2 linked regions of the Homo sapiens genome follow. The protein of the gene in region 1 interacts with the protein of each later gene in a pairwise test. Each region holds a gene or a part of one and is shown in the gene's direction. Other genes may lie near its edges. The genes, in order: ARMCX4 and KLK6.

Region 1 (4,429 bases):
AGAGGCTGCCTGGAGGGTCTATATTTGGAGTATGACTCCTCAGCGGGGACAGGTGGATGCGTGGGGACTAACTTCTGCATATTTGGTCCCTGAGTTTTGGGATTATTCTGAGGGGCTTGTATGGGAGGTGCAGTGAAGTTGTAACACAAGGCAGGACATGAAAAAACTTCTTTTTCTTGGCAATTGCTTGGGATCCTGTACATTGCCCTTCCACTTGTGAGGGAAAAAAATAATGACACGGACATCAGGTGTGTTGCAGTGATTCACAGTCATCCACAGACCCTCACCACCATCTCCACTGGAAAATATTGAACACTCGCCACTGCTAGGGTAGTATGTAGTACATGAATGGCAGACACCGGCGAGATCTCAAGTGTTACGACGGATGAAAATTCCACCTGTTAAGTCTCCTTTCCATCCAAGCTCTAGCAGTTGGTTGTTCCATGGGTGTGGTGAGGCTGATCTGATTACATGCTTATGTAAAATCCAAATAAAGCCCCTTGAATGGAAAACAGGTTAATTTGGGAAGTCACTAGTAAAGCAGGTTAATTTGGTAAGTCACTAGTAAAGCACTAGGCTCATCAGGAGTTGGGTCTTAAATATATCCTCTAGAAGTCTTCTCTGAAGAAGGTCTTAGACACCTGAAAAAAGATGCTGAGTTCAGCCAGAACTTCAAAAGTTACAAATCACCTGTGTAAAATTGTCAATATTAGAAAACGAAATGTCTTTCCAAAGATTAACTTATAGATCATATTGAATACGTGCTGGTTTTGTTTAGGACAATTTTGTATTTAAAATGTCAAGAATTACTAGTCAATTTTGAAAGCTGTAAAATAGTTTGCAGTAACAGAAGACATTTTAAAATGTGGCACAAAATAATGTAAACAAAAGAATGAGTCTTTTGTTATTTTTACACCCTGAATATTTTTTGTGTCAAATGAAAATGGCTATACTGTATTTTCTGATTACAATATTAGAAAAGAATGTCATATTAAAAGAAAAAAAAGGAACACGAAAAAGAAAATTAAAGCTCTACTTGCACCTTCTGCTTTCCTTCCTGATACCCCCTTCCACAGCCCATTTGGTGCAGGCATTGTACTTAGAGAGGGCAGGTCGTGTAGGGGGCGGGTGGGGAGTGCTGGTCTTATAGTCTAAGAGAGAAATAAGTGATTACTCAAAGAAGAAACATAAAAGGCCACAGCCAAGGGCCGGGAGTGGGTAGGGGGATGCAGACCCTCCCCTGTAACTGAAGATGGGTAAACTCCAACCACAAGGCGATGATGCCACTTGTGGGCCCTCAGATTGGAGAGGACGGAGATGAGTGACAACGCGTGCGCACTGGGGCACCGAGCACAGACCAGAGAACGGGGATGTCTGTGCGTGCGGAGTGGAGGAGGGGGGAGTTCCTGGTGACTGGCCGCCGGCCCTTGGTGGGTGGTAGGGGGTGCTGGGGAGGAGGGCGAGCTCGGCGGTGACGCGCGGTCCTCACGTGACCCGGAGCTGCAGAGCTACGCAGCCTTCGTTGCAGTCGTCACTCGCATCTGGCTACCAGCTCCCCGCTGCCCTGCGCTCGGCGGGCTGGCATCGGGCCCGGGGAAAGCGGAGCAGGTAAGGGCCCTGGGGCCCGCGCGCCCTGGCCAGGCCGGCAGAAGCTCACTGACCCCGGCAGCGGTTACGGGGCTTGAGGGGGCGGTGGTCTATGCTGCCTCAAGTTCGAGGAGCCTTTGCCTCTGATTCTCCCTAGCCCCCTTGCCCCCGCCTACATCTGTGCAGGCGAACCGTGGGCTTTGATTTGTGGGGAGATTGTCTCTGCCAGAGGGAAATACAGAGATTGAGATGCCCATCGCTCTAATCACTGGCCACACATGTCCGCTCGCTTCCTGCTCAATTTAGTGGAAGGGATGCGCCACGGTGGCGTTTGCAGAGAAAATGGTGGGCCTTAGAGACTGGACGGTGGGGTTGGTAAGGGTGGTGTCTCAGACTGTGGGGAGGGACGTTTGATAACCAGGTTCCTGAACCCGGAAAGGCGAGTATTGGGATCTATGTCCTGGGCTCTAGACCAACACTAAGTGGTTTTACTCTCTCCTGTCTGTCGGACAGTAGTTCGGTGTAGCACTGTTTGCGGCGAGGAGAAAGGAAGGAGAGGAGAAAACTGCACTGGATCAAGGAGGTTAGTGTGAGTACAGACACTATCTAAACCATTGGAGTTCCATATGAATTCTATGACAGGAACTTAGGTGCGGCTGTCTGAATGGGATGTGGGGTGGGGCTAGCTTGGGGACTTTCCCTAAACTGCATTTTACTTACCAAGCTTAGGACTTTTAAATTGTATGTTGAAGACCAATGAAGACAGCAAACTTTTCTACAGATGCTTTTATTTGCATTTCAGATAATATTGAGAAAAAGATAAATTATATTAAAGAATATTATTATTATTATTATTTTTTAGATAGCCTTTGGTGGGGAAGGATAGTGATTTTGTAGAAGCAAAAGGCTTCCCCTATAGCTTTTCTCTTCTGCTGGAGACTCCTAGAGATAGGTTGAAAGGGACGTGGACAGCAGTAGGTTGTGGTTCTAGAGTATGGGATCTGGGGTCTCCCATCTCTCCTGCCATCCTTCAGTTTTCCAGATCCCTCTACCTACCTGACCATCTTGGTGAAGGAAATGGTGGGCTTTTGGGGAAATCCCTAGAACCCTACAGGTGGTTTTAAAATAATTTGCCTTGTTGGGCCTAGTAGCTCTTGCCTGTAATCCCAGCACTTTGAGAGACCCAAGCAAGAGGATTGCTTGAGCTCAGGTGTTCAAGACCAGCCTGGGCAACATAGCGAGACTTCATCTCTACATATAATTTAAAAATTAGCTGGGTATGGTGGCACAGTCTGTAGTTCCTGCTACTTGGGAGGCTGAGGTGGGAGGATCTTTTGAGCCTGGGAGGTCGAGACTGTGGTGAGCCATGATCTTGCCACTGCAATCCAGCCTGGGTGACAGAGTGGGGCTCTGTCTCAAAATAAATAAAAAATAAAATAAATAAAATAAAATAAAATAAAATAAAATAACGTGCCTCTGTCTGTTGCCTTTTACTTTTCCTGCCTCCCTTTTCCATCCTTCCCATTTCAGTGCTGGGGAAGCCCCAGGCTTTTTTTTTTTTTTTTTTCTGCCAGCAAATGGGTCTCTAAATCCAGGCAGGCAGGTACAGGGACCTATGTCTTAGATGGTAAGTGTCACAAGTACTTAACATCCACTCTCTTCTTTTTCTCCATCTGTTCCAAGGTCTTCCCATAGGCCTGCAGTAGGGCTGTTTACCATTGGAAGCAAGGGAAAGAGGAGGAGATCAATCTAGAAGCATGGAGGTTGGTGTGAAGTGGGGGTAGTCTCTGGGGATGACAAGAGAGGGTGGGCATAGGAGGTGGGTGAGATTTAAGAGGGTCTCAGTGGAGTGCTGGATTGCCACAGTGCTGCCATGCCTCCTGTGGATTTCAGTGCAGGAAATGATAGGAATATGGGGGTAAGGGTGGGCTGGAGTATGACTGGGGGAAGACTTGATGGGGGGACCATGAGATGGTACACATTAGTATATAGAACCTGGGCTCTGGCGAGGCAGACATTGGGGTCAGGGATCAGGTTGCTTGTCTGTTCTACCAGGGACTCGGTTTCCATTACCTACTGTTTGTTTACTTGTCCATAGATCTGCCTGCATGTCTGCTGCAGGGCTTAAGATCACTGGAAGCAAAGAAACAAAGAGGAGATTGCTCCTGATCAGTATAGACTGGTAAGAGTGTGGGGACTGCCTGGGTAGACCTCTAGAGTGGGTTGGTGGAGACCAGTGTGCATCCAGTAAGGACCAGTGACCAGTCTGGAGGATGAGGATCCTCAGTCTCTCCTTTTCCAGCCACCTTTCCCACCATCCCTGTCATTTACTCCATACCCTCACCTTAATTCTGGTACAGGGAAAAGAGTGTGACAGTGTCTTAGGGAGTGGGGTGGACTGAGAAACGTAGAAAGGTAGTTTGCTAATAATATGTCTGTCCCATCAAGAACAAACTCTCTACTCCCATCTGTCCCTCCATCTGTCTGTCTGTCTCTAGGTCCAGAGATCTCATGAATTTATGTATCTACTTTAGGGTGTACTGCCAAGAGAAGCAAGAGGAGAGGAGGGAACTGCCTCGGATCATTACAGGTTGGTATGAGGGTGGGGCCCTGTAGACAGGTGACCAGAGTAGGTCCAGTAGAAATCAAAGTCTGGGACTTCTTGGTTGCTCCCATTTATCGTCAGACCTCCTACCATCCTTTCCACTGTTCATTTGGTGTATAGAAATGTGTATAGAAGTATCTTGGAAGAAAATTATTGGGCATTGGGGAAGGTGGAGAGAAGATGAAATAAGAGGAATGGAGAGGCTGCTAATCATCCTCTCTTCCACCAAGCACATGG
Region 2 (3,810 bases), on another chromosome or scaffold:
AGACCAATGGGTGAATAGCATGGGAGAGATGGAACATAAGATGAAGGTTCAATAAAGAGGGAAGGTCAGTGGGGAGATGCTAATCAGGAAGGATGTCAAAGGTCAAAGGGGACTGATCAGGATTCATTGAACAGCAGGAAGGAATAATGGAGAAGGAACTGATGGAAGAAGAGAAACCAATAAAGCACAAAAGCCAACTGAAGGATGTGAATTGAGACAGTGAATGGGGGTATAGCTGATGGAAGAGGGACTAAGGGGAAAGGATCAATGGTCCAGAGGAGTCACTAGAGGAAAAAACAGGTCCAATAGATCAGCAGGATCCATGAAGGTGGGCCTGTGTGTGAAGGGCCAATAAGAAAGGTGAACCATTGGATGAAGGGCCAGTGGGAAGGCAGAGACAATGGGGGAGGATGCGGCAAGTTAGAAAAGGACCAATGAGGGAGGTGGACCATTGGATGAAGGGCTAATAGGAAGGGAGAGCCAGTGGGGGATGGTGAGGCCAGTTAGAAAAGGACCAAGGAGGGAAGCAGACCAATAGGAAGAGAGAGCCAATGAGGGAGGGCAGGGCCAGTTAGGAAAGGACCAATGAGGAAGGTAGACCATTGGAGGAAGGGCCAATAGAAAGGGAGGATCCATGAGGGAGGGTGGGGACAGTTAGAAAAGGACCAATGATGGAGGTGGACCATTGGATGAAGAACCAATAGAAAGGAAGAACCAATGGGAGAGGGCATGGCCAGTTAGGAAAAGACCAATGGTCACAGAGTGACCAATCAAGATGAATCAATGGGCAGGAAGTGTCCAATGAAGAATGGACTACTGATCAGGAGGGGTACAGTAGAGGAGGGCGTAACAGAGGAAGAGTCCTCCAGGTCAACTGAAACTACTGAAGAAGGTGGGACCAGTGGAAGAGAGAAAAGTGGAGGAGGGACCTAAGAGAAAAGGAAAACCAATAGGAAATGAGGACTCCTGGAGAAGAGACTATTAATGAGGAAGACAGCCAATGGGGGGGAAGAATGATAGAAAGAGGGACCAATTAGGAGGCAGGGACGATGGTAATGAGATGTAAGAATGAGAGACAAACAGGAAGAGGGGTGCCAATAGAAAAGAGGGACCAATAGAGGATGGAGGACTTATAGGGGTTGGGGGGTGACTGGGGAGGATGAGGGGAGTGCAAGGCCTGGGCTGAGTCTGGCCCATCTCTCCCCTAACAGGTGATTTCCCTGACACCATCCAGTGTGCATACATCCACCTGGTGTCCCGTGAGGAGTGTGAGCATGCCTACCCTGGCCAGATCACCCAGAACATGTTGTGTGCTGGGGATGAGAAGTACGGGAAGGATTCCTGCCAGGTGAGGTGACCCGGATCTGCCACTTACACAGCCAGGGACAGGACGAAGTCACAAAAACATGGCCAGACACAGGAAGAGAGAGACACAGGCCAAAAGAGAGCTTTACAGAGACAGATAGAGACAGGCTGAGGGAGAACCCAAGCCTTGAAAAGAAGAGACTTAGTTCAACACACAGAGACACAGTCAGGGATATGCAGAGATATAAAGACACAGCCAGCAGAGACAGGAAGTGCAGAGACAAGGATGGAGGCCGCGGGATCAAGAACCAGAGAGGCCAGGAGCAGCGGCTCATGCCTGTAATCCCGGCACTTTGGGAGGCCGAAGCAGGAGGATCACCTAGGGTCAGGAGTTCGAGACCAGCCTGATCAACATGGTGAAACCCTATCTCTACTAAAAATACAAAAATTAGGATGGGCACAGTGGCTCATGCCTGTAATCCCAGCACCTTGGGAGGCCGAAGCAGGAGGATCACCTGGGGTCAGGAGTTCGAGACCAGCCTGATCAACATGGTGAAACCCTATCTCTACTAAAAATACAAAAATTAGGATGGGCACAGTGGCTCATGCCTGTAATCCCAGCACCTTGGGAGGCCGAAGCAGGAGGATCACCTGGGGTCAGGAGTTCGAGACCAGCCTGATCAACATGGTGAAACCCTATCTCTACTAAAAATACAAAAATTAGGATGGGCACAGTGGCTCATGCCTGTAATCCCAGCACCTTGGGAGGCCGAGGTGGGTGAATAACCAGGTCAAGAGATTGAGACCAGCCTGGCCGATATGGGGAAACCTCATCTCTACTAAAAATACAAAAATTAGCTGGGCGTGGTGGCAGGCGCCTGTAGTCCCAGCTACTCAGGAGGCTGTGGCAGGAGAATCACTTGAACCTGGAGGCGGAGGTTGTTGCAGTGAGTCGAGATCATGCTACTGCACTCCAGCCTGGCAACAGAGCAAGATTCCGTCTCAAAAAAAAACCAAAAAACAAAAATTACGCAAGCATGGTGGGACACACCTGTAGTCCCAGCTACTCGGGAGGCTGAGGCTGGAGAATTGCTTAAACCCAGGAGGCAGAGGCTGCAGTGAGCTGAGATCACGCCACTGCACTCCAGCCTGGGGACAGAGCCAGACTCTGTCTAAAAACAAAAAGAACCAAAGAGAAGTAGTAAGGAAGCAGATGGTGTGAGGGGACTGTCCTTCCTCAAACAGAGCCCCCACGAGTCCTGCTCAGAAACGACCAGGCTCTGGAGGAGGGAGACACTAGCTGGGGAAAGGGGACTCCCTCCCGAATACTTTAACTTGGGTTTCCTCCATTGTCATCCATCCAGGCTCTCCTCTTTATGCCAGAATGACTAATGCACTGAGGGATGTGCAGAGACCAACCAAGGGGGAGACACAGGCAGAAACGGAGACACAGGCAGAAACAGGGACAGAGACAGGGAAAGCGATACATAGCAAGTTGGACGCAAAGAAAGGGCAGGTGGGCGAGACTGTCCTCAAGACACGAGGTGGAGAGGTGTCCCTGGACAGAATAGTGCCAGGCATATCTCTCCCTGGGCCCTCCCTACCTCTCCCACCTGGGTCTTATCGTCTCCTCCTCCCCCTCCTCCCCCTCCCCATCCTCCTCCCCCTCTCCATCCTCCTCCCCCTCCCCATCCTCCTCCCCCTCCTCCTCCCCCTCCTCCTCCCCCCTCCTCTCCCTCCTCCTCCTCGTCTTCCCCCTCCTCCTCCTCCTTCTCCTCTTCCTTCTCCTCTTCCTCCTCCTCGTTCTCCTCTTCCTCCTCCTCCTCTTCCTCCTCCCCCTTTTCCTCCTCCTCCTTTTCCTCCTCTTCTCCTCCTCTTCCTTCTCCTCCTCCTCTTCCTCCTCCTCCTCTTCCTCCTCCTCCTCTTCCTCCTCCTCTTCTTCCTCCTTCTTCTCCTCTTCCTCCTCCTCTTCCTCCTCCTCCTTCTCCTCTTCCTCCTCCTCTTCCTCCTCCTCCTCCTTCTCCTCTTCCTCCTCCTCTTCCTCCTCCTCCTCTTCCTCCTCCTCTTCCTCCTCTCCTTCTCCTCTTCCTCCTCCTTCTCCTCTTCCTCCTCCTCTCTCTCCATCGGTCTCTACACCTCTGCCTCTCTCCACACCTCTCAGTCTCCATTCTTAAATTGTTTCTCTTTCTTGCTCTCTATGTTCCTCTGCATCTTGGCATTCCTATCTCTGTGTCTTTGAGTCTCCTTTATTCTCTCTCTACCATTCTCTCTCTGTGCCTTTGTGTGTCTTACTGTCTCTCTCTCTGTCTCTCTGTCCCTGAGTCTTTCTCTCCATCTTTCAGTAAGTACCTCTGTCCCTTTCTACCTCTCTCTCTGTCACACACACACACACACACACACACACACACACACACACACACACAGTCTCTGGGTTTCTATCTGTATCTGACTTTCTCCCTCTTTCCTGCAGGGTGATTCTGGGGGTCCGCTGGTATGTGGAGACCA

Evidence for each region.
Region 2: the proteins of ARMCX4 (region 1) and KLK6 interact in binary tests that used the Homo sapiens proteins (3 or more experiments, as listed by UniProt).

The regions. Positions count from the first base shown.
Region 1 is NC_000023.11:101,483,923-101,488,351, forward strand, and holds the start of ARMCX4 (armadillo repeat-containing X-linked protein 4), read left to right. Parts: upstream 1-1,533; 5' UTR 1,534-1,608; intron 1,609-2,100; 5' UTR 2,101-2,170; exon of another isoform or gene 2,171-2,176; intron 2,177-3,270; 5' UTR 3,271-3,350; intron 3,351-3,685; 5' UTR 3,686-3,769; intron 3,770-4,085; exon of another isoform or gene 4,086-4,121; 5' UTR 4,122-4,177; intron 4,178-4,429.
Region 2 is NC_000019.10:50,959,282-50,963,091, reverse strand, and holds part of KLK6 (kallikrein-6 isoform A preproprotein), read left to right. Parts: intron 1-1,211; coding exon 1,212-1,348; intron 1,349-3,775; coding exon 3,776-3,810. UniProt on the Homo sapiens protein: Serine protease which exhibits a preference for Arg over Lys in the substrate P1 position and for Ser or Pro in the P2 position.